Linked DNA regions of Homo sapiens. The protein of the gene in region 1 interacts with the protein of each later gene in a pairwise test. Each region holds a gene or a part of one and is shown in the gene's direction. Other genes may lie near its edges.

What was found.
Region 2: the proteins of KLHL42 (region 1) and STAM2 interact in binary tests that used the Homo sapiens proteins (3 or more experiments, as listed by UniProt).
Region 3: the proteins of KLHL42 (region 1) and CKMT2 interact in binary tests that used the Homo sapiens proteins (3 or more experiments, as listed by UniProt).
Region 4: the proteins of KLHL42 (region 1) and FAM168A interact in binary tests that used the Homo sapiens proteins (3 or more experiments, as listed by UniProt).

The regions. Positions count from the first base shown.
Region 1 is NC_000012.12:27,797,204-27,803,541, forward strand, and holds the end of KLHL42 (kelch-like protein 42), read left to right. Parts: intron 1-43; coding exon of another isoform or gene 44-87; exon of another isoform or gene 88-511; coding exon 512-963; 3' UTR 964-5,837; downstream 5,838-6,338. UniProt on the Homo sapiens protein: Substrate-specific adapter of a BCR (BTB-CUL3-RBX1) E3 ubiquitin-protein ligase complex required for mitotic progression and cytokinesis. The BCR(KLHL42) E3 ubiquitin ligase complex mediates the ubiquitination and subsequent degradation of KATNA1.
Region 2 is NC_000002.12:152,123,744-152,130,773, reverse strand, and holds part of STAM2 (signal transducing adapter molecule 2), read left to right. Parts: intron 1-4,394; coding exon 4,395-4,548; intron 4,549-6,838; coding exon 6,839-7,008; intron 7,009-7,030.
Region 3 is NC_000005.10:81,257,294-81,264,323, forward strand, and holds part of CKMT2 (creatine kinase S-type, mitochondrial precursor), read left to right. Parts: intron 1-439; coding exon 440-563; intron 564-1,826; coding exon 1,827-1,961; intron 1,962-6,197; coding exon 6,198-6,323; intron 6,324-7,030. UniProt on the Homo sapiens protein: Reversibly catalyzes the transfer of phosphate between ATP and various phosphogens (e.g. creatine phosphate).
Region 4 is NC_000011.10:73,406,104-73,413,133, reverse strand, and holds part of FAM168A (protein FAM168A), read left to right. Parts: intron 1-1,597; coding exon 1,598-1,740; intron 1,741-3,472; coding exon 3,473-3,647; intron 3,648-5,490; coding exon 5,491-5,603; 3' UTR 5,604-5,621; intron 5,622-6,389; 3' UTR 6,390-7,030.

The DNA.
Region 1 (6,338 bases):
GCTGCCTTTCTCCTGACTTGTAACGTTGTGTCCTTTTCACTAGACAGCCTCTGGAGATCCTGTGTTGCTACTTGTCATGTTTCTTAGGATCAGCTATCAAGAATAATCTACTTGCTGCCCAGCCTGGCTTCTGTATTAAGTAGTCGGTAATTTTGTAGCTATTGATGAGGGTTCTGAGGCACTTACTTTTTTTACACTGACCTGGTGGTTCAAAGGTGTGGGGATACCAGGGAGGAGGGGCTGTGTGAAAGTCAGAGCTGCGCTTTTTCCTGGTTTTATCCAGTCTGAGTCTCCCACGGAAGAGACGTTTGGGAGTGGGAGGTGAGTGCGGATGGATCTAAATATATCTCTTCCCAGCCACTTTGAAAACTGTTTTTCTAACTTGTGCTTTTTCTGAAAGAGTTTTTTCTCTTTGTTACCAAATTATGCAGGCAGAGGTAGACATTTCTGTACAGACTTGCCTAGTGGTGTTAGTGGAGGCGGTGTCATCACTTGTCTTTCTTTCTTTCAGACCGGAACATGAACATTTTGCAGTACTGCCCCTCTTCCGACATGTGGACGCTCTTTGAAACATGTGACGTCCACATTCGCAAGCAGCAGATGGTGTCTGTGGAAGAGACCATCTACATCGTGGGGGGGTGTCTCCACGAGCTGGGGCCCAACCGCAGGAGCAGCCAGAGCGAGGACATGCTCACCGTGCAGTCCTACAACACCGTCACCCGCCAGTGGCTCTACCTCAAGGAGAACACGTCCAAATCGGGTCTTAACTTGACTTGTGCGCTCCATAACGACGGCATCTACATCATGAGCAGAGACGTCACCCTGTCGACCAGCTTGGAACACCGAGTGTTCCTCAAGTACAACATCTTTTCAGATAGTTGGGAAGCATTTCGGCGTTTTCCAGCTTTTGGACATAACTTGCTGGTTTCTTCTCTTTATCTGCCCAATAAAGCAGAAACATGACTGAATTGAATTGGTAGATGAAAAAAACCTGGTTCAAGTTTTTTTTAAAATGTGGTGTCCCATTCCAAGGGAGACCAATTCCTAAAGGGTAAAGAAGGGTTAAAGTAGGTCACATATATACAGTAGCAGCTGTAAATAAGCTTACTTGAACTAATTACTTGAAAACTGGTGGAAAAAAGAGACCAACTTTGTTATTTTTTAAATTATTGATTTTTAAATTATGGGAGCAAATCCATCTCCAAACATGATACTCTTGGGCCAATGACGGATCATCAAAATGTAGATTCATTGTGTCTGTGTGGTAAAGGGCCAAAGTCAATAATTGGGACAAATGGTAAAGATGATTTTAAAATCTGTTGTATTTAGGTCCCTTGACATATCATTAGCACCTTAAGTGAGAGGTTTTCTTTTTCTTATCAGTGTCCTTGACAAGCATTCATATTAACATATTCATTCTCTCTTCTCCATCACCCATACCCACACATACATCTAGTATGTTTAGGGTTCTGTGTTCAGATATTTTGTTTGCACACTACTTTTTAGGAAACTTATAATGATGGAGCCCTACAGTGAATCCTTACCAGTGTTCAGTCCTCCCCAAAACTTGCATAAAAATATTCTTAGCTATTTTTCCAGCCTTTTTTGCAGTTACAAATGCTGGATAAATAGACTGATAAAACCTCTTATTTTATTTATGTGGCAGGTTGCATATTTATGTGGACACATAGGTTGCACTGCTAGGCATTCTGTATTGTTTTAAAGAGGATATATTATTTAGAAAAATGGACATATGAATATTATTAAAAATTGAGTCTTAAATTTAAATGGGAAGGGAAGAAAACACCAAATAAGAAAAAAATTTGCCTTTAAGAGTTACTTTTGTTGAATGTATTTGACTTAGTTCTTATTTTAAGGCTAAAAAAACTTTGTCATATTTAAGTCGGCAGCTTTCTAATTTAATCTTAGCTTTGTAATTCATGTTTTGCTTTTGTGGACTAAGGTAAGGACAGCATTTAAATATTTGTGCTGGAGTGAGGGGAAGAAGCTGTTACAGAAGTGGAATGGTTTCTGGTGGTATTTCTGAAGTTAGGTAAAGTGCTTTACTTGCCTTGGTTGTTAATTGAAATAGAATTCAGCTCAAGCAGTTGTTTTCAGTGAGTGAGTTAACAATAAAAGCTTCTGCCAATCATAGATCAACATTCCTCAAAAATACATACACTCATACTTATGGAAATTTTATTTTGATTGAAAACACTCTGAAATTATCTGATATTTTGTAATGGCATCAGTTAAACTGTGAGCTGGATTCCATCTTTCTGCAGTAACAGCGGGCAGAACCATTTCAGTTAGCATGTGCCTCACTTTAAGAAAGTCCTGTAGGGGAAAAAAAAAACTGTCAGAGCGAATTCATGCATTCAACAAACACTTATGAGTGCCTGGAGTATGCCGTCCACTGTGCAGATGTAGGACAGGGGCTAATCACTTAGAGTTCTTCAGTTTATTAGAGGAGTGACTACAGGTTTTCTTTACAACCATGGCCTCTAGTATACTTAAAATAAGCGTCCAGTTATAAAAAGCCTATTTGCACAACTTTTTGGGAATACTTCTATTAACTAAAATGAGGTAAGCCATTATTTTGGACATAGAAACAGATCTTTGTATCTTGTCACCAAATAATCTTACCTCTAGTCTACTTACAACTTTGTAAGGGTTTCTAAGCTATGCCCATTTATTCCCAAATATTAAGCCCTTAAAAAAATAAAACCTCTGAACCAAAATCTTCCCAGGAATAGTACTTAATAGATTTTAATGTTAATTTATATTCATTGTAGAATTGAATTTCCAGTGACCTGTAATTTCATTACATATATTTTAAAATCTATTTATTTTAGATGGTGTTAACTTTTCGTTGCTGAAGAGCTTAACTTTTTAAAGGCTTTGTCCTATACATTTAGAAGATGAGTCAGTTGAATTAGTACTGGACAAACAGTTGGAGATTAGTTTGCAAATAAGCATATCATATCAAATACAATATTCCAGCCAACCAGTTAATTCTCTTCCTGGTTACATTCATTGGGTCTATTTGCCTAATGTTGACAATTAGATTCTTGGACCAAGTGAGGGTGTACTCTGATCCACAAAGCTCTTTTATAAACCAGGTTTGAGGTTGTGTGTGTGTGTGGGGGTGTGTGTGTGTGTGTGTGTGTATGTTTGCATATTATAGCTCTCTTTAAGACAGACATCTAAAAAGATTTTGGTTATTCTGGGCTGCCAGCAGTACGTGGGAAAGGTGGAATGTGCAATAGGAACAGATCTGTGCATTTTGTGACATCGTCCTTCCTGCTGTGCACATCAGCTGTGATGACATTTTGAGGGTAGTTTTAATTTAGCTCGGTTCTCTTGTTGGTGCCAGTATTACATTGAAGACTACCTATGATAGAGGCAATGTTGCTTTGAAAATCTCCCTTCAGGCGGAGGTTGCAGTGAGCCGAGATTGTGCCATTGCACTCCAGCCTGGGCGACAGTGCAAGACTCTGTCTCCAAAAAAAAAAAAAGAAAAAAGAAAATCCCCCTTCATCCCCCAGGACTGTCCTTTACTCTTTGATAGTATCCCTCTATTTTCTTCCCAATTCTCTAAATGCTTTATCATTTTTTCCTGAGATGCTTCTGAGGGATGCTGACCTCCCACTATGGGGAAAAGGGTTGCTTGGAGGACCTGGGGTGGCAGCCCCCCGACCAGAAGCACCCTATTTTATAGATAGCAGTCTGAATGGTAGAGAGTCCTGTGTGTGGGTTGTTAGAAGGTTGGTTCTTCCTGTTATTCTCTCTGGCTTTCCTTTCAACCCACTTATTTTCAGAGGCCTCTCCCCTTAGCATCCTTTAAAAGGTTTTCTGATGAATGTGTGAAAGAGTTGATTATTTCAACAGTATTGGTTAAGTCACAACGACGAAGTGCTGAGAAGGTTATGGGTACCAGGAAGAAACAAACAGAAGTCTTAAGATTAGAATGAGAACCAAAGAGAATTTAACCCTGCCATTTTTTTTTTTTTAACACCAAGATCCTAAGTAATTCCAAATGCCTTAGATATCAATGAAAGCTACACACCATTGAGATGGGCAAAATTCTTTCTCTACAAAGGGAGTAATCAAGTAAATACCTGTTCTCTTTCAATGGACTGTTGCCTATTGAGCATTGTGGATGATGTGTTTTCAGATTTCCAGGTGAAGTTCTGACCCTACCTGTTTGGCCAAAGACGTAAATTGAGAGGAAAGGCCTTGGTCTTCCTGATCAACCAGCATTTAACGAACAGTGGCTTAATGCAGATCACTCAAGAGGCAGCATAGCAATGTAAAAGGAATATAAGTAGGTGTTGGATGCCTTTTTCCTAGACCAGGAATGGGGAATATATAACACCTGTGCCACCGCTCTTTTAAGGAGGCATTATGAATGAGTGCAGCATTCCTGTCCTCTGTGCCAGGATTTGGTCTTAGAATCCATGTCAGATTGGTGCTTCCAGACATCTATTCCCAGTCCATCAGAGTGAAATGAAGGCTATTTGCCATCCCTGCCTTAGACAGAGGAGTGAAAGAATTAAGTGGGTAGACACCAACCAAAATGACTTTGAAAGCAGTGAGCTGATTGAGCTCCAGTTCTGTGGTTACCAGAAATACTGAGTGTCTGTCATGTGCAAGACAATGCTAAGAACAGAATACAGACATAAATAAGTCACGGCCCATGACCTTGAAGAGCTTACGGCCTTATAAAGAGGTTCACTGTAATTGTCTTCACCAGGGCGTCCTTCTCAAAGATGCCCACTTTTGTCTGGCACATTGGGGCTCGGTGGTCTGGTGGTCCCTTCGGTCTTGGCCCTGTCCGTCCTTTGTTTTTGTGATTTACTAACAATCATCACGAACCAGTTTTGTTTTTCTTTTAAATTTGAACATCACATCTTGTGTTTTAGTTTTTTGCTCTATGATTTTTTTCTCACTGCTTTTCAGTCTTCTCTGTACTTCATTTTTGTGAAAAAGTGAAAATCACATATAATCTTTATTTAAAAATGCTCACCAAGCACTGCAGACTTTGGAGTTAGGGATTCAGCAGCTTGTTCCAGTGAAAAGGAGGAGTGAAGCTGGGGAAGTTAGTATCTAAGAGGGGCAAGCTGATTGCATGTGCATTTATACCTATGCCTTTAAAACATTCCCATAAAAAGTATTAATAAAGAAATTTCCATTCCACACTAGTACTGATGAAAAGGTGGTTGATTTTGCCTTGTGATAATTATCAAAGGATAGTTTTTCATCCTTAGATTTTATTCACATGAGAGATTTTTTTTATTTTCTCTGTTGACTTAGGAACACATCATAAATTCACACCAACTGACACGTTGCTGACGTCTGTACTTGACATAACCATTTTTATTCATACAGGAAGCATTAAATATAAAAGATGGTCAGTTTTGAAGAGCAAAGGGTGCTGAAATGACTTGTACGGTTGGCTGGTGCTTTCTCAAATGGATTGCCATAGTTCATTACTAGTAAAGAAAAGGAAAATGTGATTTACGTTGTCATTTTTCCTATTAAAAAAAACCCTTAAGAATGGGGCACTTGAGCTGTCCCTGCAATGTTTTCATATCTAGTAGTCATTTTAGGGAAAGTGATAATCTGTAGAATGAATAGTTATGTTTTGATATGACTGATACTTTCTTTGTTAAAAGGTTGTATTAAGTCTTCAATTTCAAGTCTAGCTTAAAAGTGTAAACATTATGTGATTCATTTGAATACAAGAATGCCTATGAAATACCCACTATAACAGCATTCCTTTTGTGTTTAGAACTATAGAAGAAAATGTCTTCAAATAAAGTAGTTTTCAGTCACTTTTTGTTATCTAAGTTCTATGTATCAGTTACGTATGCAGGGCTGTGCCAGGACTGGGAGGAAATGGGTGAAGTGACTTGGGAGCCTGAGGTGGGAGGATTGCTTGGGGCCAGGAATTTGAGACCAGCCTGGGCAACAGTGAAATCCTGTCTCTACAAAAAATAGAAATAAAAGAAATTAGCCGATACAGTGGTGCATGCCTCTAGTCCCAGCTACTTGGGAGGCTGAGGCAGGAGGATTGCTTGGGCCCAGGAGTTTGGGGCTGCAGTGAGATCTGATTGCACCACTGCACTCCAGCCTGGGCAGACAGTGCAAGACCCCAACTCAAGAAAAATGAAATAAATGGACAACCATTTTCTACACACTCAGGACACACTGATGGAGGAGAAGGAGGATGGCTGACCTAGCAGAGCGACACCCAAATCTAACTGAGCACTTTTTTTTTTCCCAGGAATTATTCTAAGCATTTTTTATTTAAATTATTTAATCCTCACATGAAT
Region 2 (7,030 bases), on another chromosome or scaffold:
GCTCACCTCAGCCTCCCAAAGTGTTGGGATTACAGGTGTGAGCCACTGCACCCAGCCTTATGCCCAGCTTTTTTTTTTTTTAAAGACAGGGTCTTGCTGTGCTGCCCAGGCTGGTCTCAAACTCTTGGCCTCAAGTGATCTTCCTGCCTCAGCTTCCCAAAGTGCTGGGATTATAGGCATGAGCCACTGTGCCTGTCCCTTATTGTCCTTTAAAAATAGGAGCGGCCAGGCGCAGTGGCTCAAGCCTGTAATCCCAGCACTTTGGGAGGCCGAGGCGGGTGGATCATGAGGTCAGGAGATCGAGACCATCCTGGCTAACATGGTGAAACCCCGTCTCTACTAAAAATACAAAAAATTAGCCGGGCGTGGTGGTGGTGGCCTGTAGTCCCAGCTACTCGGGAGGCTGAGGCAGGAGAATGGCGTTAACCCAGGAGGCGGAGCTTGCAGTGAGCCGAGATCTCGCCACTGCACTCCAGCCTGGGCAAAAGAGCAAGACACGGTCTCAAAAAATAAATAAATAAATAAAAATAAAATAGGAGCAACACTGAAGGGGGTAGACTTTCAGGGTTTTGAGCTTTTAACTTGGTTCTGCTCCCTTATTTCTCAGCTCTCTATCTGAAGTCATAGGGAGAACCTGTAGTGAAAGGAAAACAAGGGATAGGGCTTAGTATTCCATCATCATCCCTTTCTAGTGGTATTTATTGAATTAATATATAAGCAGCACAAGAAGAAAAGATTAGATAGGACCAAAATAAGAAGGAGAATATAAACTACTTCTTTTCTGCCTCTGCCAGAGAAGTGCAGTAGCAGCAGGACTTTTCCTAGTCACCAGAGATTGTCGTCTTTGTTCCAGGGGACATTTTAAAAATAAATTTGTTGTGTTTTCTAAAGAAATGAAAAATCTGTGTGGCAATTAACAGTAGTTTTGCCATATTTTAGAGAAAGCATTAAATATCTCGTTACACATCTACTTTGTTTCAATGCAGCATGTTAATGTTCAGTGAATAATCAAACTGGAAAAGATTAAAAAGTATTATGATAGATGTGGCTGTATGTTTAGTTCAGACACAATTTTTTTTAATTTTTTGTATTTTCAATTTGAAGTTGGTTGAGTGCACGGATGCAGAACCCATGGACATGGAGGGCTGAGTGTATGTCCACACATTCTACAATGGAAATCATTGTCCTTGATAATTATCCCTTGATATGAGCAGATATTATATAATGAAAAAAGGCAGAAACTATGACAATTTAATCTTATTTTTGGTTCATAAAAAGAATTTTGTTAAAGGAAAAGATCTAGAAGAATTAGAAGTCAGATTGAGGCCAGTGTGGGGGCTCACACCTATAATCCCAGCATTTCAGGAGGCTGAAGTGGGAGAATCATCTGAGCCCAGGAATTTGAGACCAACTTGGGTAATACAGTGAGACCCCATCTCTACAAAAAAATTTTTTAATGATTAGCTGGGCTTGGTGGTGTGCGCCTGTAGTCCCAGCTCCTCAAGAAGCTGAGGTGGGAAGATCACTTGAGCCTGGGAGGTCAAGGAGGCTGCAGTGAGCCACGGTTGCACCACTGTACTCCAGTCTGGGTGACACAGTGAGATCTGCTCTCAAAAGAAAAAAAAATCAAAGTGACCATTCTGATATTAGTTAATTTTTTGAGTGAGAACTCAACCATTAACCATTTTTCTTACCAGTTTCAGTTTTTGAATAGGCCAACTGGCATTTTTTCTTGTTCTATGGCCACAGCTGCAGATGCAGCTCCTGTTCTGGGAAATGTTTCCTGTTCTTCAACAAATTCTTATTGACTATTATTTACCCTTGTCAAGTATTCAAAGATGAATAAAATATCCTTTTTTCCCTTGAATGGATCATGTTTGTTATTCCTACTAAGAAAAACATCTCTACTGTTAGAAAGTTAAATTGTACATTTCATTTTTGTCATTGTACAGAATGAAATTTTGTAGCATTTTATCAGCCTAAGAAATTATATTGAGTAAACATGTAAATTGACTCCATAAAAGTTTAGGTAGATTTGTTGAAGAGAGATTCATAGTCTGGACTTAACTATGTTCCAGACTATTCTAATCTTATTTCCTCCTGTCCTCCAAAGGTAATTTTCTACCACCTGATCAAGTTGCTCTTTTGCCTTATTACTCTGGGATTGTGTCTCAAATCTTTAAGGGGATTTCAAACACAGTGATCATGTCTTTCTACTGCATTTTCCTGGTGTTTCATCAGCATGCTGGGTTTTGTGGATCAAATTCCTACGGTTACATTTTAGTTATGCATTTGTTAGCATGGCACTAATTTCTGTAGCTTTCTGGGTGACTTGTAACTGATTTTTTTTTTTTTTAATTTGAGACAGAGTCTCGCTCTGTTGCCCAGGCTGGAGTGCAGTGGTGCAATCTCGGCTCACTGTAACCTCCGCCTCCTGGGTTCACACCATTCTCTTCCCTCAGCCTCAGCCTCCCGTGTAGCTGGGACTACAGGTGCCCGCCACCACACCTGGCTAATGTTTTGTATTTTTAGTAGAGACGGGGTTTCACCGTGTTAGCCAGGATGGTCTCGATCTCCTGACCTCGTGATCTGCCTGCCTCGGCCTCCCAAAGTGCTGGGATTACAGGCATAAGCCACCGCGCCCGGCCTGATATTTTTGATAATAGAGTTTGACCTGCTTAATGCAGTCATTCTTACCAGAGAGAGAAGACTTTTCGTTGTTGTAGTTCAGACATAACAGACTCTAGTAGAGGAAAAGTGACAAATCTTGATAGGACTCAGTCCAGGCTATTTACTTGGTAGTCCTGTGTCTGTCTGTGTGCCTCTGCTTGTTGCCTCTCTGTGTTTATGTAGAAAGAACCACATTCAGTAAAAAGGCTTGTGGATGTTTCAGGCCAGATGAAAAGTGGTTGCTTAGCTTTTGTAAATTTGACAGTGCAAAGAGAGTTCTTTATTACTCCCAGGGGAACTATCAAGTAGAAAGAGTTTGCTCTGAAGCTTCTTGGGCAAATTTGAAGATGCTTTTATTTGGGTTTGTTGTTATTACATAATAAAGCATTGGTTTACTTTCTCAAAATCAACCAACCAACAAATGAGCTGTAGAGATTAGTCTTACTTACACATTGTTTTTACTTGGATTTTCAAGGATAATTATTTAAGTAGGTTTTTTTTTTTTCAGTTGACACTTTCATGGATATAAACAAATGAAAATGTGTGTGTGTGGTTTTTTTTTAACAAGTGTTTTTAAATTTCCATCATATTGTACTTCATAGAGGTTCTGAGCCTTGCCTGGGTACTTTCTTTTATTGAGATTTTTAATTAAGGCCCAGATTCTTACCCAAATTGAGAATTTTCTTTTTAATAATTGAATTCTCAACAAAAAACCTAGAATGTGTGAAAGTAAATTCTCTCAGCACCGAAATTATGAATTGATTGCATTTTATGAGGTGTGGAAGGACTTTTCCCTAATATTATAAAGTCATATTGTCACCAGTAGAGGATTGTGACTGCAAGTTGTCCATGTTCTTAGCATTTTGAACAAAGAATTGGACAAAATGCCCAGCAAAGCAAAGAAAGATGGAAGCAACAAAAGAACAAAAGCAGGGTTTTATTGAAAATGAAAGTACACCCCACAGTGTGGGAGTGGGCCTGAGCAGCAGCTCAAGGGCCAGGATACAGAATCTTCTTGGGTCCAAGTACCCCCTAGAAGTTTCCCATTGGCCTTTTCGTGCTCACCTCATGTAAATGAAGTGGAAGCTCACAATCAGTCTGATTGGTTGCAGAAAGCAGCCAACCAGAGGCTGAAATGAAGTTACAAAGGTAACACTGCTGTGCAAACATCTGATTGGTTGCAAAAAGCAACCAATCAGAGGCTAGGGTGAAGTTACAAAGTTATATTTCTTTGCAAATGAAGACTCCGCCCACAGTCAGTCTGATTGGTTGTGGACAGCAACCATTCAGAGGCTGAAGTTACAAAGTTGCAAATGGAGACTGGACCTGTAATCAGTCTGATTTTTTTCGGACACCCAATTTCCCATCTGCTGCACAGAAAACGTGGGGGGTTTGCAAAGGAAGTAGCCTCTGGTCCTTTTGTTACTTAGGTGTGGAAAGTTAGGGTTGGTTTTCCTTTCAATTTAGTTATAAGAAGTCAGCTTGAAAATCAGCCTTAGATTCCCTGCCTCCAGACCCTATTCTCCTGCCTCAATATCAGCCTAGCTATTACAAGGATTAAGCAGTTCTTCCTCTTAGTTTCCCTTTGTGAATATTCTTTCATTAAATATAAAAAAGCCTTTTAATATATTAATAGAAATTGTGCTAAATTAAAAAAATAATTTATATTACTAAATACATGCTAAAAACTAGAAGAGTATTATAATACTTTTCTTCTACATCAGGAAGCATTCAGAATTGTCTGAATTGAATGTTAAAGTCCTGGAAGCTCTGGAACTATATAACAAATTGGTGAATGAAGCACCAGTGTACTCAGTCTATTCAAAGCTCCACCCTCCAGCACATTACCCACCTGCATCATCTGGGGTTCCAATGCAGGTGAGCATGTTTTTTGAGAACATTTTCTAAATTATAAACAACTTTTAAAAGTAAAAGAAAATGTTTTATAGCATAGTATTAAGATTTCTTTTGTCTGTGAATAAAATTATAAAATTTATCTTTGATTGTTTCAGTAAATATTGGCTAAACAATTAACATTCACCAGAGCAAATTAGACAGATACTGATATTTCACAAATACATTTTAGTTCAGTTTTAACATGGATGAAAAGACCATTAAATATGTGAGGGTAGTTCTGGTTCTTCATATGCTTTTGTAAGTATAAAGCATAAATCTTTTATGTAAACATAAATCCTTTTTGTAAATATGGAGTATAAATCTTTTGATTTAGGACAATACCTGACATATCAGAAGTTCCCCAGGTGAGGTACTAACGCTTTCCTGCTGCTCAACAAGATTTAACATTTCTTTACAAATTTCCATAAAGATTTATTTGACTTACATGATTATTAACAGGCACAATGAACTTCTAGAGTATGCTTTATACTTCCTTTACTTAGCTGCATGACTTACATTGTTAAAAATCTGTGCATAGCAAAGATATGATACATGTCTAGGAGGTACAGACTCCGTAAGCCATCCATGAACATCCATAAGCCATCTTTTTCCAGTACTTTTCACCTTTTTTGTGTGCTTGCCATGTGAAGCGAATACTTACATTTGTCAGTATCCCCATTCGGAAGCGTTTTTTGAAATTTCAGCCAATTAGCCAATTGAATTCAGAATGAGCTTGGATGAGCAAAATTCATGTTAATTTATGAAAACTGGTATGTAAAGGTGCATGTGAAGGAGACACCAAGGAGAAAGGGTAGAATGTGGGTGCATAATTTAGATGACTTGACACAACATAATTGTTAAGTAAAAAAAGAATAGTCACTATGGTAACTGTCACGTCAGACAAGATACATTTATCAAATATGCCATGCCTTGATCTTTTTGAAAATTAGGAGGGTAGGAAAGATTTTTCTGGCTGCAAAAGACCTTTGGGATTTATTCAGTTTGCTTCTGTTTTCAGAGTTGTTCGCTGCTGCTGTGAAAGTGGAACAAAACAGCAGTGTCTGCATCATTGTATGATAAAACTTTATGTTTGCTTTTTTGTGTGTCTGTAAAGGGTTATTTGCCATTCTGTGTCAGGTTTTGGTGTTTAGTTGCATTCTACTTACTGCGTTTTGCCAAGCACAACTCATGTCTCTAAAAAGTTAACTTTCTGTTTGATTCCTCACGTAATCTGTACCTACACTGTTCACTCAAGAGCATTTGAAATATTCAAAAGTTTCTATTCTAATTTGACAAAAATATATCTCTACTAGAAGCAGTTGGGGTAACACATTAGTTATATTGTGTAGGCTACTCAGGAACCCTAAACTGCAGAAGACGCTGATTCTCACAGTCTCAGCCTATTGTCAGTAGATTGTTACATGTCTACTAAGGAGGTAATGTGATTGTACTTAATATAGCTTATTTGGCATTTCTAGCATTCTAAATTTTCAGATGAATGGTATTTACTTTAAAAATAGCTTAATTTAAAACTGGATTGATGATCATTATGGTATGATATGATATTAAATGTATGCATTGTTTTGATGCTATATTTAGTAGACAGGTGGTAGACCCTGTCCTTAAGGAGCTGTTGTCCTGAAAATAAGTAGGGCACATATAAATGTCCAAAGAGACCTAAACCATTTTTGCTGTTTCCTGAGGATACATGTCTTTTGCCCATAACTCTTCTTTACTTTTGTCCTGTTTGTCTTAAAGGTAGAGAATAAGGTAGACATTGCCAGGGAAGCCCTGGCACCCTTATACCATTTCTTTTTCAGCTTTTTCTCTCAAGTTTCTTTCTTAGGAAGGAGTTGGATGAGTCATCCAGGGATGAGGGTAAAGAAGGTTATCATTCTTATAGTGACTTTAAGTGATGGTGGGCTTCCCTTCAAGGGAGTGTATAGTTTTCTGTGGCTCTACAGCAAGACATCTTTACTGAGTAATAGGCAACCTGGATAGATTGCAATCCACTACTTAAAAGTACACCACCTGTCTTTCTCCCAGCTCTCTGTAAAAATAAAAGAACAGCCAAACAAATCAAATTTCCATAGATTTGGCACTGTGATTTGACAGCTCTCCACTTTTAGTTCTAAGATGGATAGATTGGTAGAATCAGATTGCTTCCCAAAGAAGTATAGTTTCTTTCCTTTAAGTCTTTTAACATTTTAAATATATTATTAGGCACATGTTTGGGAGATGAGTGAATCAACTTTTTCTTTCTGATTAATAGACATATCCAGTTCAATCACATGGTGGAAACTATATGGGTCAGAGCATTCACCAAGTAACTGTTGCCCAAAGCTATAGCCTAGGACCCGATCAAATTGGTCCACTGAGATCTCTGCCTCCAAATGTGAATTCCTCAGTGACAGCACAGCCTGCTCAAACTTCATATTTAAGGTAAGTTTTGGGAGCTGTGTTA
Region 3 (7,030 bases), on another chromosome or scaffold:
ATGGACAGGCAGGATCCATGGAGCAAATGTGTGAAATGTTGTGTACCTTCAACATCTTGGGTGGAAGGTAACCCCCACCCGCTTTTTAGAGCACAAGATTTTGGTTGAATCTTTTAGGAGACAAAACATTCTTGTTAATGTCGAAGCCAAATGTTATATAGTTGAATTACTGTCATCCTAGTCAGAGGACCTAGGGGGAATTAATTATATTCTTGTTTGGTAAAAACATGACATCTTTTAGGGTGAGAGTTGGTCTTAATCTTCCTTCTGTCAAAGTAACATTATTTTGTCATACTTGTTCAGGCACAGTTAAGAGATTAGGGCCATCTAGGAAATGAGGAAGGTGAAATGAAGCAATCAAGCTAGGGAGGTAATGGGAATTTTCATGTGTTGAAACAAATGCAATTAACACTCAGTACCATATTTCTCTCTTCATTAGGCATAATTATGATAAGACATTTCTCATCTGGATAAATGAGGAGGATCACACCAGGGTAATCTCAATGGAAAAAGGAGGCAATATGAAACGAGTATTTGAGCGATTCTGTCGTGGACTAAAAGAAGTAAGATGTTATCTGAGATTTCTGGATATTTATTAAAATAAAATTACCGTATTGTTTGTTCTTGAAAGAAGACACTATGGTAACTTCCAAGATGGAGCTAATTTTTTTCTAGAAATCAAAGCAACTGCCGCCTCCCAGGTTCAAGTGATTATCCCGCCTCAGCCTCTAGAGTAGCTGGGATTACAGGTGCCACCACCACACCTGGCTAATTTTTGTATTTTTAGTAGAGAGGGGTGTTTCACCATGTTGGCCAGACTAGCCTCGAACTCCTGACCACAGGTGATCTGCTGGCCTCAGCCTCTCAAAGTGCTGGGATTACAGGCATGAGCCACCACGCCCAGCCTCAAGGCATTTTTTGGATGAGCCACCACGCCCAGCCTCAAGGCATTTTTTGGAGTGCAACTTCCAAGGTAGTGCTTCAGAAAATAAGTGACTTTCTCTTGTTATTAGAAAGCTATTACGCTTACTTCCCCATTCCACTGTGGTTTGGGGAAGTCTGTGGATCATTACTTGTTTTTTGATTTATTTAATATCGCTCTGAGCTATTCTAAGCATACAGATGACAGAGAATGTAGCCTGACCATAGACTCACCTGCTGATAATTCCTGTATTCTCCTACTCTCTTGGCATGAAAAATGCCACCAACTAACATTCATCAAGTGCTTAGTACAGGCCAGGTACTATGTTGACTGCTTTACATCAGGGGTCCTCAACCCCGGGGCCACGGACCTGGTACAGGTCTGTGGCCTGTTAGGAACTGGGCCGCACAGCAGGAGGTGAGTGGTGGGTAAGCCAGCATTACTACCTGAGTTCTGCCTCCTGTCAGATCAGCAGAGGCATGAGATTCTCATAGAAGCACAAACCCTATTGTGAACTGCGCATGTGAGGGATCTAGGTTGCGTGCTCCTTATGAGAAACTAATGCCTGATGATCTGAGGTGGAACAACAGTTTCATCCCAAAATATTCCCTCCCTACGATCTGTGGAAGAATTGTCTTAAAACATTCATTATCTTTCAAGACACCGGTCCCTGATGCAAAAATGGTTGGGGACCACTGCTTTACATGGTTCATTTAACTTAATTGGGCCATTTTAATAGTCTGGTAGGAGAGGTATTATTTTCTCTTAAAGGAGTACTATAAATTTACCTTAATTTCATTCATGCCAGAGGAGGGTACACATCTCTCTCTCTGGTGTTAGGGATGTGCTGAATGAATGGATGTTGGAAAATGCTGTCATTTGTTCACTGTGGTTCTACTTGTAGGTAGAACGGTTAATCCAAGAACGAGGCTGGGAGTTCATGTGGAATGAGCGCCTAGGATACATTTTGACCTGTCCTTCGAACCTTGGAACAGGACTACGAGCTGGTGTCCACGTTAGGATCCCAAAGCTCAGCAAGGTACTGTTATGTGCCCAGTGGCCCTGATGGGCCAGGATCAGCTCAGATGCGACTGCTTTGTGGAGGAAGAAAACATCACTGCCCATTCCTTAACCCTTACTTTCTCTATCTACAATATAAAAATAAGAAAAAAATTAAGTTTGCCTCCAAAGACATTTGTATTAGTTAGAATAAAAGGTTCAGGGGCTGTAAGAAAAAGATGGTAGCTTCAAGAATAAGGCCTTTACATTTTTCCTCATGTAACAAATCAGGATAGGTAGGCTCTGCTCTCTCTGGTTCTTTCTATCTCCTTTCTCCATCTCTCCTAGTTCAAGCAGTTCTCAAACTTGAGCATGCAAGAGATCACCTGAAGGACTTGGTAAAACACAAGTTGCTAGGCCCCACCTGCAGAATTCACATTTCTAACAAGTTTCCAGGTGATGCCGGGGTTGTTGGTCAAGGGACTACACTTGGAGGAACGCTGTCTTAGAGCACTCTTCTTAGAGACCTACAATGAGACTTAGACTCCCACACAATAACAGTGAGAGACTTTAACACCCCATTGTCAATATTAGATCAACCAGACAAAATTAACAAGGATATGCAGGACTTGAACTCGGCTCTGGACCAAGTGGACCTCATACACATCTATAGAACTATCCACCCAAAATCAACAGAATATGTACATTCTTCTCAGCATCACATCGCACTTATTGTAAAATCGACCCCACAATTGGAAGTAAAACACTCCTCAGCAAATGCAAAAGAACGGATATCATAACAGTCTCTCAGACCACAGTGCAATCAAATTAGAACTCAAGATTAAGAAACTCACTCAAAACCGCACGAATACATGGAAATTGAACAACCTGCTCCTGAATGACTACTGGGTAAATAACGAAATAAAGGCAGAAATAAATAAGTTCTTTGAAACCAATGAGAACAAAGACACAATGTACCAGAATCTCTGGGACACAGCTAAAGCAGTGTTTAGAGGGAAATTTATAGCAGCAAATGCCCACAGGAGAAAGCAGGAAAGATCTAAAATCGACACCCTAACATCACAATTAAAAGAGCTAGAGAAGTGAAAGCAAACAAATTCAAAAGCTAGCAGAAGACAAGAAATAACTAAGATCAGAGCAGAACTGAAGGAGATAGAGACACAAAGACACAAAAAAACCTTCAAAAAATCAGTGAATCCAGGAGCGGGTTTTTTGAAAAGATTAACAAAATAGACCACTAGTCAGGCTAAAAAGAGAGAAGAATCAAACAGACACAATAAAAAGTGATAAAGGGGCTATCACCACTGATCGTACAGAAATACAAACTACCATCAGAGAATACTATAAACACCTCTGTGCAAATATACTAGAAAATCTAGAAGAAATGGATAAATTCCTGGACACATACACCCTCCCAAGACTAAACCAGGAAGAAGTCAAATCTCTGAATAGACCAAAAACAAGTTCTGAAATTAAGGCAGTAATTAATAGCCTACCAACCAAAAAAAGTCTAGGACCAGACAGATGCACAGCTGAATTCTACCAGAGGTACAAAGAGGAGCTGGTACCAGTCCTTCTGAAACTATTCCAAACAATAGAAAAAGAGGGACTCCTCCCTAACTCATTGTATGAGGCCAGCATCATCCTGATACCAAAACCTGGCAGAGACACAATAAAAAAAGAAAAATTTCACGGCAATATCTCTGATGAACACTGATGTGAAAATCCTCAATAAAATACTGGCAAACCGAATCCAGCAGCACATCAAAAAGCTTATCCACCAAAATCAACTCAGCTTCATCTCTGAGATGCAAGGCTGGTTCAACGTACACAAATCAATAAACGTAAACCATCCCATGAACAGAACCAATGACAAAAACCACATGATTATCTCAATAGATGCAGAAAAGGCCTTTGACAAAATTCAGCAGCCCTTCATGCTAAAAGTTCTCAATAAACTAGGTATTGATGGAACATATCTCAAAATTATAAGAGCTATTTATGACAAACCCACAGCCAACAGGCAAAAGCTGGAAGCATTCCCTTTGAAAACTGCACAAGACAGGGATGCCCTCTCCCACCACTCCTATTCAACATAGTGTTGGAAGTTCTGGCCAGGGCAATCAGGCAAGAGAAAGAAAGAAAGGGTATTCACGCAGGAAGAGAGGAAGTTAAGTTGTCTGTGTTTGCAGATGACATGATTGTATATTTAGAAAACCCCATCATCTCAGCCCAAAATCTTAAGTTGATAAGCAACTTCATCAAAGTCTCAGGATACAAAATCAATGTGCAAAAATCACAAGCATTCCTATACACCAATAGACAAACAGAGCCAAATCATGAATGAACTCCCATTCACAATTGCTTCAAAGAGAATACAATACCTAGGAATACAACTTACGAGGGATGTGAAGGACCTCTTCAAGGAGAACTACAAACCACTACTCAGAAATAAAAGAGGAGACAAACAAATGGAAAAACGTTCCATGCTCATGGATAGGAAGAATCAATTATAGTGAAAATGGCCATACTGCCCAAAGTAATTTATAGATTCAATGCTATCCCCATCAAGCTACCATTGACTTCACAGAATTAGAAAAAACTACTTTAAATTTCATATGGAACCAAAAAGGAGCGCATATAGCCAAGTCAATCCTAAGCAAAAAGAACAAAGCTGGAGGCATCATGCTACCTGACTTCAAACTATACTACAAGGCTACAGTAACTAAAACAGCATGGTACTTGTACCAAAACAAATATATAGACCAATGGAACATACAGAGGCCCCAGAAATAACATCACACATCTACAACCATCTGATCTTTGAAAAACCTGGCAAAAACTAGAAATGGGGAAAGGATTCCCTGTTTAATAAATGGTGTTGGGAAAACTGGCTAGCCATATGCAGAAAACTGAAACTGGACCCCTTCCTTACACTTTATACAAAAAGTAACTCAAGATGGATTAAAGACTTAAACATAAGACCTAAAAACCATAAAAACCCTAGAAGAAAACCTAGGCAATACCATTCAGGACATAGGCATGGGCAAAGACTTCATGACTAAAACACCAAGAGCAATGGCAACAAAAGCCAGAATTGACAAATGGGATCTAATTAAAGAGCTTCTGCACAGCAAAATAAATTATCAGAGTGAACAGGCAACCTACGGAATGGGAGAAAATTTTTGCAATCTATCCATCTGACAAAGGGCTAATATCCAGAATCTAAAAGGAACTTAAACAAATTTACAAGAAAAAAACAACCCCATCAAAAAGTGGGCAAAGGATATGAACAGACACTTCTCAAAAGAAGACATTTATGTGGCCAAAAAACATGAAATAAAAGCTCATCATCACTGGTCATTAGATAAATGCAAATTAAAACCACACCGAGATACCATCTCACGGCCAGTTAGAATGGTGATCATTAAAAAGTCAGGAAACAGTTGCTGGAGAAGATGTGGAGAAATAGGAATGCTTTCACACTGTTGGTGGGAGTGTAAATTAGTTCAACCATTATGGAAGACAGTGTGGCAATTCCTCAAGGATCTAGAACCAGAAATACCATTTGACCCAGCCATCCCATTACTGGGTATATACCCAAAGGATTATAAATCATTCTATAAAGACAAATGCACACGTGTGTTTATTGAGTCACTGTTCACAACAGCAAAGACTTGGAACCAACCCAAATGCCCATCAATGATAGACTGGATAAAGAAAATGTGGCACACATACACCATGGAATACTATGCAGCCATAAAAAAGGATGAGTTCATGTCCTTTGCAGGGACATGGATGAAGCTGGAAACCATCATTCTCAGCAAACTAACACAAGAACAGAAAACCAAACACTGTATGTTCTCACTCATAAGTGGGAGTTGAACAATGAGAACACATGGACACAGGGAGGGAAACATCACACACTGGGGCCAGTTGGGGGGTGGGGGTTTGGGGAGGGATAGCATTAGGAGAAATACCTAAGGTTGATGATGGATTGATGGGTGCAGCAAACCACCATGGCACATGTATACCTATTTAACAAACCTGCACGTTCTGCACATGTATCCCAGAACGCTTTATTTAGTTAATCTATATATTCAATATATATATCTATTATAAATATATATATTTATTATATATATAAAAAGTTAAACTGTTATCTCTCACTATATGTCTTTTGTCAGTAAACGCACCAATGATTATGAATCAATTTTGCCTCTTAGCACATTTAAGTATTATCCCTTTGTCCTAGGACCCACGCTTTTCTAAGATCCTGGAAAACCTAAGACTCCAGAAGCGTGGCACAGGTGGTGTGGACACTGCCGCGGTCGCAGATGTGTACGACATTTCCAACATAGATAGAATTGGTCGATCAGAGGTAACGTCTCTCTCACTTTCCTAACATGAACTAACAAAATCAGCCTAAGAGAGAATAGAGAAAAGCAAACAGCCTAGCCGTTTTCACAAAATTCGAGACCTCCTCTTCGCCCATTGAGTCCTGAGTTATGTTAGCTTTTCATTCTGTAACATTATTCTTCCATGGGAAATAACTGCATAAAGGGAAACATAATGTGAGCTGAGAATTTATAGGCAAGTATAGGAATTCACAGTGGGACTGTTGTCACCGACCTGCCATGAGAGCTATTCCAACAATCCTCAGCGAGCAGGAGCTCTGTTATGCTAAAGGACTGCAGTTTTTTTATTACTGTAAAGTCAGAACATCTATGCTATCCCTCTGAGGGTGGCAAAATAGTGGAATTTTCTCTTGGTTCTGAATTTTCTTTGGTGAAGGCTACAAATGATCATCTTCACTTTGGTGTTCTTAGATACTCGATGGTTTCTAAACTTTTATTTCTTAGGCTAAAGATAGCAACTATGTTATGTGCTAGGTTTAGATAAGTTTGTGCTCATAAAATCCTTAGGATTCTGTGATGAATATGTAGGATGAAAAGGATTCATAGACTTTGTGTGGCCTGAAACAATGAATGAGGCAAAAAGATCACATGTAAGGAACATGCAGCTGAATGCTAAGCAAATACTGATCATGGTAAGTTATACCAGCCTATCTGGATGTGGTCCCATTGG
Region 4 (7,030 bases), on another chromosome or scaffold:
GAGAAAGATTTGTGACCATGTGGTAGTTTGCTTTTACTTGGGGTTAAGGTAGAAGAGACCCAGGATCTTTAGAACCATGGAATTTTTGTTTAGGAAGAGATCTTCATTCTTAGCCACCTGATTTTACAAAATAAGAAACTAAGGCCCAAAGACTTGACAATTGTCATGAAAAATTAGGGGGAAAGCCAGGACTGAAGACTAGATGTCTTCTCTTCCAATAAAGCACTCCCTCCACTCTGCCCCTAGTCCCTTATTATATGATAGAAACAGCACCTCGGAGCTGAAAGGGTCCTTGGTGAGCATCTTATAGGTGAAAGAGCTGAAGCCCAGAGAGGTTCAGTGAGGTCTGCTAGACTTACCCAAGATGGAACCACAGGAAAGAAGCCACCTCAGCACCTCCCCAGCAGGGCTTCAAAGCCTAGGTCCTCAGGCACTGTCCCTTCAACTTAGAAGAGTTTAGAGTCTTTAGGAGAAGTTATTAAAAAGACTTGCCTTTTCTGAGCCCAGGATCCCCTTGTGTAAAGTCCAAGGATTGGAGTCCCTTGATGATCACTTGGGTTCCGTAGAACGATTCCATTTTGTGATTCTAAAAGGAGACAGTGTTGTTCCTGAATGACTCATGTTTCAAGTTTTTTTCTGTGAACAAAGGATCTGTCACTCTTTTCCGGAGGATTAAAAGGCAGCACAGTTTATTTACATGGGCAATTGTGAGCTTCTTGGGGCCTGACTTCTCAGCCCCATTCTTAGCTCCAGCTTTTGTCCATCCTGCTGAGGGACAGACATGGCCCAGGTTCCAGGTTGATGTGAATCTTTGTGATCCCTGACTTCAGGTATTTTCAGGCAGAGGTGGCCTTCCCCTAGAGCCCAGGAGAGAAGGAGGAGCCAACTCTGCAGAGCAAAGTTTTTCAGCATCCTAGAAGATGACGATCTCTGAATGGTGTTTTGTATGGTCAGCATCCCAGAAGATGAGGGTCTCCGAATGGTGTTTTGTATGGTCAGCATCCCAGAAGATGAGGGTCTCCGAATGGTGTTTTGTATGGGGTTTTCACCTTCAAACTTGGTGGGGAGGGGAGGGAACATGATGGAGGGAAGTCCAAGAAGAGAGTGAGAGAGAGAGAGATAAGGAGAAAAAGAAATAGAGCAAAAGAGAGAAAGACAGAAACAGCAGCAAAAAGATACCCTGGATTCTGTGTGAGAAGACAGAAAAGCAAGTAGAGTAGCAATAAAGAGCAAGTGAGTTGAGGGTTTCCATCTCTGTGCACCTGCCCATTTCACACAGACAGCTCCAAATCCCAGGCTGTCAGAGCTAAAAGGGACCATGTGGTTCTAGCCTCTTATTTTATAGATGAGAGCCCTGAGACCCAGAGAAAGAAAAGATGCCCAGAATCATCCATGCAGCCCTGTGCACCAGGACTGAGGGAGCTGCCTCTGGGGCCAGGGCTTTCTGGGTGGAGCCCTGTTCTCTGTTTGTTCTCATCTCTGTTTCCAGCCTGGATTCAGCCCATCTTTGTCTGGGGAGTCGTGACTGGGACCTGCTGCCTTCTAGCAATGCTTTTCTGCCAACTAACTGGAAGTCTCTCTTATTGCCTTGGTACAGGATATACTGCGGGGACACCATACAAGGTCCCACCGACCCAGAGTAACACTGCTCCACCCCCCTACTCCCCATCACCCAACCCCTATCAGACGGCCATGTATCCAATCAGAAGTGCCTACCCCCAGCAGAATCTGTATGCCCAGGTAGGTACATGTCAAAGCCACCTCTTCTGCAGGTAGAGGAGCCTTCAGCCTGGGTGCAGTGTGGTGGGGTAGGGTGAGGAAGTGAGGGAAGGAGAGGATGGTTTGTGGCTCTGGCTAGCCGTCCTTGTTGTATCACTGAAGCAATATCCCTGCAGTCTGCTTACTCCCTCACTCCACCTCAGCCCCTAGAGGGGGTAGGCATGAAGTCATTTAGATTAACAGAGCCCAGAATGTCAGAGGACAAAGGCCCTCAGAGATTTTCTAGCTCAACTCCTTTGTTAAACAAGTGAGGAAACTGAGACCCAAAGAGGGGAATGACTTGTCCAAGGTTACACCACGAGCTATTGGTTGGTCAAGGTGAGACCCCAACGTCTTAGTCTTTTCTCCCTAACCCCCACATCTACCCTTCCTCAGTCTGTGAGCTGAGTGGGGAGGAGGAAAGTACACAGGCCCTGCCACCAGTATCCTCTGTGACCTTGGACAAGTTACCCTCTCTTTCTGTGCCTGATGGGCCTTTCTGGGCTCCTTCAGCTAGAAGATGTATGCATTCCAGGATTGGTATGAGAGAGGGGACCATATGGGGCTCTAGCACACCCATGACACATTCTTCTGGAGTGACTCTATAGGAAACATAAGTGGTGAGGAGAATACTTTTTTAGTTTAAAAAACAGCTATATTTTAGAGTAGAAGACAAAACTTAAATTGATCTCAAGCCTCTTGTTTTATTTTTTTTAATCTCATTTAGTAGAAACATTTGAAGATTTCTGAATTAAGATGATCTCAGGGGCTCCTGTTTACTTCCCCTACAAGTCAGTGGGCCAGTGGATTGTGGCAGCAGGAAGCAGCCATGTGATTCAGGCATTGGGAGTCACCTTGGACCACTGTCTTCTTCATCCTTACCTTTTTACCTAAAGGGAAATAGCTAGTTAAGAGACATCCTGGAAAATGCTATCCATGTATGCCTTTTTTTTTTTTTCTTTTTTCTTGAGACGGAGTCTTGCTCTGTCACCCAGGCTGGAGTGCAGTGGCGTGATCTCAGCTCACTGCAACCTCCGCCTCCCGGGTTCAAGCCATTCTCCTGCCTCAGCCTCCCAGGTAGCTGGGACCACAGGCATGTGCCACCATGCCTGGCTCATTGTTTTGTATTTTTAGTAGAGATGGGGTTTCACCATGCTGGTCGGGCTGGTCTCGAACTCCTGACCTCAAGTGATCTGCCTGCCTTGGCCTCCAAAGTGCTGGAACTACAGACGTGAGCCACTGTGTCCAGCCGCCATTTTTTTTCAACATGTACTTTTTTTTTTTACAACATGCACTTACACCATTATGATACTACTACTAATTATCCTTTTGTGTATGTGTTCTGGAGTTTACCAGCCCTGTTCACATGCTTGGTAACTGATTGATTGTTATTCCTAACTTTAAATTTTAGGCAGCTTATAAAAGTTCATTGCAGTAAGATAAAACATTTTAAAATGCTAAAACCAAGGTTAAGGGAGTAGAGCTCTTATCCCATTAGATCATCATAGCAGCCTTATGAGCAAGGCAGGACAGGATTAGAGCCTTATTTTTCAGACCAGAAGCTGAGCCCAGCACTGCACTGACCACAGTCACATAGTAAGACAAGCAGAGCCCCAGCTGGGGTCCGGACCTTGTGTCCTTCAGCCAGTGCTGCTCTCTCCATATCCCACCTACCTCTCCAAATGCCTATGTGACCTCAGCCTCTTTCCCCCAGGGAGCCTACTACACACAGCCGGTGTATGCTGCCCAGCCTCATGTCATCCACCATACCACGGTCGTCCAGCCCAACAGCATTCCCTCTGCTATCTACCCAGCACCTGTTGCCGCCCCGAGGACCAACGGTGTGGCCATGGGCATGGTGGCAGGCACCACCATGGCAATGTCAGCAGGTGAGGGCAGCATCTGCATCAGTGTCCATCCCTTTCCTCTAGGAACTCAAAACGGAGCAGAGAACACAGTCATAGAATTGGCTGCAGCACAGCACAAGAGATCCTGTGCCAGGGGGCTTGGGAACCCAGAGGAAGGAGCCTCTAAATCTGTCTATGGGGATGAGGAAGATTTCACCAAGAAGGACGTATCGAGCTAGGCCTTAAAGGGTGAACACAGGCTAACTAGAGAAGTGAAAGAGGGAAGGGTGGTGCAGAAAGAACATGAACATGGCATGTTCACAGAATGGAGGAATGGAGCCAAGGCCCTTCGGAAATAGGGGCTTGGAGTTGGAAGGTGGCTGGATCGCTAGCAAGGATAAGATGGTGGAAAGTCCTGAATACCTTGTGGTACCTCTGTTGCACACAATGGGGGTCAAGCAGGGCAGGGATGTGGTTAGGTTTAAACATTCTCTGGCTGCAGAGTGGAGACAGGATTAGAAGGGGTGATCTGGAAGCAAGTAGGTCAGTGAGGAGGCTGTCAGTGTACTTTAGGGGAGAGAGATGATGCTAGCACTCCAGTAACAGCAGGGGCGCCAAAAAAGAAGACACAGGGGCAATGTTCTTTATTAGGCAGGAGCTTAAGGACCTGTGCAATAATTATAATAATTATGAGGGATGACAAAAGCAGAAGTCCCCAAGGACTGTTAGGTTTTTTTTTTTTTTTTTTGAGACAGGGTCTTGCTTTGTCACCCAGGCTGGAGTGCAGTGGCACGATCTTGGCCTACTGCAGTCTTGATCTGCTTGGGCTCAAGTGATCTTCCCACCTCAGCCTCCCAAGTAGCTGGGACCACAGGCATGCGCCACTACACCCAGCTAATTTTTGTGTTTTTTTGTGGAGGCAGGGTTTCACCATGTTGCACAGGCTGGTCTTGAACTCTTGGGCTCAAGGGATCCACCCACCTCAGACTCCCAAATACTGGGGTAACAGATATAAGCCATTATGCCTAGCCTAGAGACCCAACTTTTAAAGAACCAGCTAGGATACCATCTGAGGTAAGAAAGTACAAGGGGTAGAGTGAGCATTTGGATTTTATTCTGTCCCTAACGTAAGGGTATGGTTGAGGCCTCTTACTCCTCAGATCAAGTTGGCAAACTGTTGGATATCTACTCAGTGCCAGCCTTGTTCAGGTCCTGGGAACCCAATATCAATAGATCAGATCAGAACACTGTCCTTAAGGAACACCCAGGTTAGTGTGGGAAACACAGCCACAGACATCACAATTACTACTCAGTATGATTGTGCAATAAGAGAAGCATACAAAGAAAAGTAAAAGGAAGGCCGGGCGTGGTGCCTCATGCCTGTAATCCCAGCATTTTGGGAGGCCGAGGTGGGCGGATCACTTGAGGTCAGGAGTTCGAGACCAGCCTGGCCAACATGGTGAAACCCCATCTCTAGTAAAAATAAAAAATCAGCCGAGTGTGGTGATGGGCACCTGTAATCCCAGCTGCCCAGGAGGCTGACGCGGGAGAATCGCTTGAACTCAGGAGGCAGAGGCTGCAGTGAGCTGAGATCGCGCCATTGCACTCCAGCCTGGGCGACAGAGCGAGACTCCGTCTCAAAGAAAAAAGGAAAAGGAGGACTTAGAATAGTCATTGATTCTGTCCTCAAGCATCAGAAAAAATTCCCCTAAGGAGGTGAAGCCTGGTGAGGTGGAGAAGGGCAGAAAACAGGTCATCAGGAAGGCGAGGGAGATGGGGGATTTGGGCAGAGGGAGCAGCCATGTGAAAGACTGTAGCTTCATCCTCTTCATTCCTGTGTCTGGTGCAGCCTCGTCAGGTTACTCTTCTCTCTCTGGATGCTCAGGTACCCTGCTGACTACACCCCAGCACACGGCGATTGGGGCACACCCTGTCTCCATGCCAACATATAGGGCCCAAGGAACCCCTGCGTACAGCTACGTGCCCCCACACTGGTAAAGCCTGCAGCCCATCCAAGTGAGTGTGGCCAGGGTGAGAGAAGTGGGAGGGGGATACATACAGGAACTGCCTCAAAGTCCCTGGTTTGGGTCTGGAGCACAGGTGTCAGCTAGGGCAGGTAACAGCTGTCAAGTTACCAGTTGCTTTCCTGCTCCAAGGTCCATAATATCACTCTTAATAATAGCTATCACTTCTGTTGACTGCTTGTTGAAATCTAAATAATAACAGAAATAATAATAGCTATCCCTTTGCTTATGTTATCTCATAATCCTTATAGTTGCTCTGTGAAATAAGGATCATTAGCTCTATTTTACAGATAAATATGTAGTTAAATATCACTTAGCCAGTAAAAATTAAGCTAGGGCTTAAACTTCAGTTCTCTAGTACTAAATTCTGTGCCATTTACCTTATGGTCTTCGGACTTCTTTTAACTATGGGCCCCATTCTTCAAATGAACTCTTGCCCAGATCATATGTTAAGAGCTTTGGTTGGAGCTATTTGGAGGCTTTGGGCTGACCCAGACCTCTGGCTTCCTTGGTCCCCTCAGCAGCTCCTGAGGCAGTGACAGTGAACCATAGGGCTCCAGGGATGTCACTTTGAAATCCTCTGGCCCCCCACATCATCTGGCCTCCCCCATCTCCTCCAGGGCTCTTGGCACCAGAGCACAACAACTTCCACAGGCGGGAGGCAGGCAGCTTCACTAGGAAGGCACAGCGGGCTCCCGAGTTGAGGGGAGAAGCCTCCTGAATATCACTGACACTGTTTCTTTCCCCTTTCCCTCTGCAGATCTGGAGTCACACATTGTATGCAACTACTCAAGTCTTACACCGGTGCTGGAGCAGTTCCCTAGCAGCACCACCTCTATTTGCAAGAAGAGACAACGGAAGTGCAAGGGTCACTTTATGCATCTTTAATGGTTTTGATTTTTATTTTTGGTTTTTGTAAAAGCTGCTTTTTCTAATCTCCTGCCTCTCCCCAACTGTCCCCCTCTTAGCCCCTGCCCTTCCAGCTCTATCCCCTTCCTCCTACCTGACCAGGCCATGTCCTCTCTGCTCTTCCCTAAGTGTCCTGTCCCTGGGGATCCCAGTCTAGAGGCAAGCAGAGAGTAGGGTTTATTGCAGTGGTTCATCTGAAGGCTGGATTCCATTTGAAGAGCATAAACAGATGTGGTCCAGGGTAGGAACTCAGAGCTGTTGAGCAGGCTACATCTCTAGGGGAGTGTTCTGGTTGTTTTTTCTTAAGCAAGATTAGTTCAGGACATTCCCATGTCCCAGACACAAATGAAATGTCTCCTGAGAACCATTGCAACAGACCAAGAACAAAACCACCTGAGTATGTAGGCGTGTTATTAGCAGCTTAATACCCCAGGCTGAGAACCTGGGGAAAAAAGTCTTTAGAATTTGGGGGAGGGTGGGGGGAGGGAGGGC